2 separate regions of the Homo sapiens genome follow, and region 1 is linked to region 2. The links come from fine-mapping of genetic effects on gene expression. Tissue or cell type: blood mononuclear cells. Region 2 holds a variant in brackets; the other region holds the start of a gene. All regions are shown on one strand. Distances are between the middles of the regions. Region 1 holds the start of GIMAP6 (GTPase, IMAP family member 6). Region 2 holds the start of GIMAP2 (GTPase, IMAP family member 2).

Region 1 (2,923 bases), 53 kb before region 2:
TGTCTCTTCCCCTATTAAGGTCTCAACATACTTCATAACATTTTTTAGAGCAATTCTTAGTCCTTTTTGCAAATTAGGGCCACATCATTCCCAACCAGGAACTCCTGTCCCCTTTCCCATGACAGCAATGTGTCCTGGCTTCATAGACTAACACAGTTCTCTGTGCCAAGATCCCATAAGGTTCTCTCTGCTGGATTTTCTCTGTGGGACTGAGGAGGAAGTTGCATGGTCCATGACTGTTTTTCCAGATCATGTAGGACATTCACAACCAGATGAAACAGATCCAGATGAAGGGTCTGGGGTGTGGGGAAACCTAAGTCCAGGGGAACCTGATAGACATGTTTTTCTCATTGCCACATTGTTAGATGTTTGTTCTATTCTGTTCACCTGGCAAACACTCCAGTCCTCCCCAGATCCCAGAAGTATATATGCGGATATTGCTTTATGATTGGTAAAGATCAATTTTGCAGTGCTGGGCTGGGCATGGAGGGAGTCCAGGAAGGTCTGTTGACTTTCTAGGAAGAAAGAAGAAGCAGGCCAGGCGGACAGCCTTACTCAGACCTGAACAGCCAGATTCTGGAAGGAGTACAATATTTCACCTACCAAAGGGAGTTAGTTCTTCCTAACTGGTGGCCTCTCAATCTCTTTGTCCCTGGCTTCCTTACATCCCTGGTGGAAATTGAGGCAGCACTTTACCAATGTAATCTCATTCCTCCTTTAGAGAGAACGGGCAGGCAGCTTAACAGGAAACAACAGCCGGGTGGGACTAGGCTGTGGCATGCAGGAACCTGCACTGTGCCTTCGCAGGGTTCGGGGAATGGGTCTGCACGCAAGGCACCTCCCTGCCTCCTCCTAGACCCTCCCCGGAATGGCACCTCCCATGTTGGCCACAGTGTGCATTGTCTCCAACACAGAAGATGGAACAGATAGTACCATCCTTGTCATATTGCTCTGGAAGAAAGCAAAACTCAGAGAAGCATCTTGCCAAATATTAAACAGTGACTTTGTCACAAGGCAAAAAGTTCTCCAGACGTGTTGGTCACAGCTCTTTTTATCACATTACAAACCTGCACACACCACAGCACACACAAATACACAACACACACACATACACAAAACACATGTACCACTCACACACATGCAGGTGAACACACAAACACATACACAAACACAAATATACATACACAACACACACACAACACTCACATACACACACAACACAAACATCACACACACAAACATCACTCACACACATTCATGTTAACACATACAAACATGTAAACACACATGTACAACACAAACACCCACACATACACATCCAAATATGACACGCACAAATACTCAGACTTACCTCTGCACCAGCTCACAGGCAAGAGAAAGGACCACGTTTCTGGTCTCCCGGCCACGCACTCTCACGGAGGAGGCAGAGAAAAGCTTCCACAGTGTATGAACACAAGGAGGACAAGGCCGATGTTTGCTTATATTTTCAGCAAAATGTTTTCAGAGAGCTGGGCTGGAGACCTGCCCTTGAAAGAGCAGTGTCCGCTGGAGATGGAGGAACAGGAAGTGGGTAGGAGCACCGGCCTTCCTGAGTCAGAAGAGTCTGCTGTTGCACTTTGCAGCCTCGGAAGTAGAAAAAGGGAGGATACCAGTGGTGGGATTATTTTTATCCTGAGCCAGGATAACTAGAACTCAGAGCTTAAAAAGAGGCAGATGCCTCAGAAAGATTTGTGTCAGGAGGAGTGACTTTCCCTGATCTCTCTTTTCTGAACCCCACCTCTTCCCCAGGGAACTTCTATGCCTCAGTATTGGGGCAAACAGTCATTGTCTCCTTTCTTCCCCAACCTCTCCTTCCTTTAATAGTTTCTCTCAGGACAAGGTCTGACACTCATTACCTCTAAGGCATGAATCATTGGTAATTACAATTGTTACAGCTTCTAGAAGATCTGCACTATAAGAAAAGGGAAAATACAAAAGAATGTCTAAAATGTAGGATTAAAGAGAGCACTTGTTATGGGGGAAGAACAATATTTTAAACACAGGCCAAGGGAGAAAACACCTCAGCATCCTCAAAAACATGTTTTCTAGGACTTTACTGACAGATCTGATAACTGTGGCTAAAGGGAAGCCATTGAAGGAAGAAATTCAGAACATAGGAGCATAGGTGATGATATTGTTACCACATGATTTTAAAATGTTAAGATTCCCTAAAAAAATTCCACTCAATCTACTATAATAGTTCTAATTTTCTTTGGTTCTGTTCTGGTTGATAATCATGGTGTATTTATTAAAATTGTTACATAGTATGTGTGTGTGTACATATATATATCTTTTAATGTTCTACTTAAATTATTCTGTAAATACCCTGACACAATTAATTTTTTTTTTTTGAGACAGAATGTCATCCTGTCACCCAGGCTGGAGTGCAGTGGTGTGATCTCAGTTCACTGCAACCTCATCCTCCCAGGTTCAAGCGATTCTCATGCCTCAGCCTCCCAAATAGCTGGAATTACAGGCGTCCGCACACCCGGCTAATATTTTGTATTTTTAATACAGACGGGGTTTTACCATGTTGGCCAGGTTGGTCTCAAACTCCTGACCTCAAGTTATCTGCCCACCTCGGCCTCCCAGAGTGTTGGGATTATGGGCGTGAGCCACCGCGCCTGGTGTAACATGATTAATTCTTTTTTTTTTTTTTTTCTCGAGACGGAGTCTCGCTCTGTCGCCCAGGTTGGAGTGCAGTGGTGCGGTCTTGGCTCACTGCAAGTTCCACCTCCTGGGTTCACGCCATTCTCCTGCCTCAGCCTCCTGAGTAGCTGGGACTCCAGGTGCCCACCACCACGCCCAGCTAATTTTTTGTATTTTTAGTAGAGATGGGGTTTCACTGTGTTAGCCAGGATGGTCTCGATCACCTGACCTCATG
Region 2 (2,923 bases):
CATTCTGAAAGTCCAACCAAACTTTAGAACTCCCTGTAGAGTCTATATTTGTTGTGACTACATCTCAGTCTCACTTCTCCCTGCCTAATCCTGGGTTCTTCCCTTCTCCCTCTAGCACATTTCCTGAGAAGATTCCCTAATAAACTTCCTTCATCCATTTTATCTTCATCTCAACAGTCTGTATTCCTAGGAACCCAAACCTTTGCACATGTACATGTACATATCACTTATGTTAGGAAACGCAGTGATGTAATTTGCAATATTAGTAGGTCAAAAGGAAAAAGACATGGAATTATATCAGTCAACGTCAAAATAAAATTTTCTAAATTTATACCACAGATAAAAGACTTTAATGAAATAGGACTAAGCAAAGTATAGCCACACTGATTTTAAAATAAACTAATTAATTTCCAATAACCAACATCAATATTAATGATAAGATATTAGGTGCCCTACAGGTAAATAAATAATAAAAGCACATTAACTCACTTTTGAAAAGGTAGCAAGCAATTGTAATTATACAAGAGAAAGCAACATAAGATATTTTTGGAAACAAGGAGGGAAAATTATCACTATTTGCAACTGAGTCTATGATAAACCTGGAAACTCCAAGACAATCAAAAGGAAATGTTTTAAATGCTAGGATGTGGAGAAATAAGAACACTTTTACACTGTTGGTGGGACCGTAAACTAGTTCAACCATTGTGGAAGTCAGTGTGGCGATTCCTCAGGCATCTTGAACTAGAAATACCATTTGACCCAGCCAACACTCCAGAGTATTACTATAGACATTTCCTAGACAATTTCTCCCCACAGGGAGGTTCTCTGAAATTACAGAGCTGGACAGGGAAGAAAGGCCCAGAATCCTAGAAGCCATGAATGAGTTATGTAAAAATGTTTTGATGGTTAATGATCCTTACAATCAGACTCAGACAAAAATGTCCCCTCTCAGGTTCCCCTTTCTGTGCCCTTCTTCCCCTGGGCAGTGCCTATCAGAGGCTCCTCTTCTCTCCCAGTGGCATCTGCTTTAGAACAATCCCTGCTGCTGGTGTCAATGAGGTTTAAGCCCTTCTCAGGGGGCCATTTGCATCTAGACAAACTTCTAACTGTTGGGACATATCCCAGCTGGGAAGGACTGAAATCCACCAACTTCCTTGGCATTCATGCCTTTCTTTCCAGTCCAGATGAAATCATTAAAACACTCTTTTTTCACTTTTGAGAAGAAGAGACAGTTGGCCCACATGACAGCAAATAACTACTGATTAACTTTCCATTTAAACTGTTTATTTTGCATAATGGCATGAAAGAGAATTTCAAACACAGGCACGTGGTGG[C/T]GTTCATTAGCAGTCAGGAAGCTCAGGAAGATTCAAGAGAGGAAGAAGACCGACTGGAGTCTCGGTTTTACTTTCTTTTTCTCTTGGAGCTGAGCTATAAGACAACAGGACTGAACAGGGAGCCAACTGTTTCTTTGAACAGTAAATCAGGTAAGCCCAGATTTACGAAAAGTTCTGCAGTGTTGATTTCTAGGTCCCAAGCCATGCACAAACATTTTCATTTTTCTTAGAACAAATTTGTCCTATTTTAAGAGAAGCAATTTAGAGTGACTGCCTTTTCCTTAAGTGGAGCCAGTTTACAGGAAACCGATGTAATTTACTTTACACATTACTGGCAAAGAAAGAATTTCCATAGTATAAAGTCAATAAAAAGTGCTAACTGGGAAGAATTTGGGCATTAATCGGTGGCTTTCAGTTTTCTGTGCTTGTACGCTTGGTCTATGCCTGCCAGATTTAAGCAAGAGAAACTAGCTGATGAAAACGTACCGATATTTCTCACTCCATAGTAGTTCCTACATTGCAAGGGCTTCATAACCAGGGGCTGTTGGGGAATGAGAAAAATTCAAGCCATTAATGGATCAAGTGAAGTGTATTTCCAGCTTAAAGGACTGCACGGTTTCCCAGAGTCATAATCTTCATTCACTGAGTCTCTCAGCAAAGACTCAACATGAGGGAGGAGGTTTGGAGAGAGTAGAGGAGGGAAGGAGGCAAGGTGGGAAAAGAAAGAGAGGGAAAGGGAGGACTGAGCCTAAGGTGTAAGGGAAGGCACACCTACAGAGAAAGCTGACAGAAGCGAAGAGTGTGCAGGCAAAACAAAAACAGAAGGGAGCCGGGCTGATCTGTGAGAGGACGGGAGGAAGAAAGCGAGAGAGAGCTGGGCATGAGGCTTACAAATGAAACCCACTTCTCAGCCCCTCAGCAAGTGATTCCAGTTCTCTGTAAAGTAGGAAGTCATTCCTTTCCCACCCACCTTGTCCCTTATGAGTAGACAAATGAAACATGGTTGTTTAGAAATATAAGGATCTTGGCCTAGTGTGATGGCTCACGCTTTTAATTCCAGAACTTTGGGAGGCCGAGGCTGGTGGATCATTTGAGGTCAGGAGTTTGAGACCAGCCTGGCCAACATGGTGAAACCCTGTCTCTACTAAAACTACAAAAATTAGATGGGCATGGTGGTGCACACCCATAATCCCAGCTACTCGGGAGGCTGAGGCAGGAGAATCACTTGAACCCAGGATGTGGAGGTTGCAGTGAGCCGAGATCGCACCACTGCACTCCAGCCTGGGTGACAGAGTGAAACTGTGTCTCAAAAAAAAAAAAAAAAAAAAGAAAGAAAGAAAAAGAAAAGAAAAGAAATATAAGAATTTTTCATGATTTAGAACTGAAAAATAAGTTTCTTGTCTCTCTGTTTCTCAGGAACACCAATGGACCAAAATGAACACAGTCACTGGGGTAAGAAGGTGACTTCACGTGTGTGTGTGTGTGTGTGTGTGTGTGTGTGTGTGTGTGTGTGTGTGTGTTTGGCTCTTCTGATGATGTTGGGGCAAAATAAACAAGGGTGAAGGATCTTATTCTAACTCCCACAGCTA

The links.
Region 1: it holds the start of GIMAP6, and the variant in region 2 is fine-mapped to the expression of GIMAP6 in blood mononuclear cells (TOPMed, PIP 0.94).

What each region holds. Positions count from the first base shown.
Region 1 is chr7:150,630,818-150,633,740 of GRCh38, forward strand. It overlaps GIMAP6 (GTPase, IMAP family member 6), which reads right to left and starts at 1,568. Exons shown (of 3, transcript NM_024711.6): 1 at 1,352-1,568. RefSeq lists enhancers at 979-1,058, 1,329-1,418, 1,429-1,518.
Region 2 is chr7:150,684,302-150,687,224 of GRCh38, forward strand. It overlaps GIMAP2 (GTPase, IMAP family member 2), which reads left to right and starts at 1,405. Exons shown (of 3, transcript NM_015660.3): 1 at 1,405-1,484; 2 at 2,751-2,786. The coding sequence starts at 2,759. LOC124901774 (a long non-coding RNA gene) reads right to left here. Exons shown (of 4, transcript XR_007060589.1): 2 at 1,821-1,875. RefSeq lists an enhancer at 1,280-1,479. The variant C/T (reference allele first, on the strand shown) is at 1,335.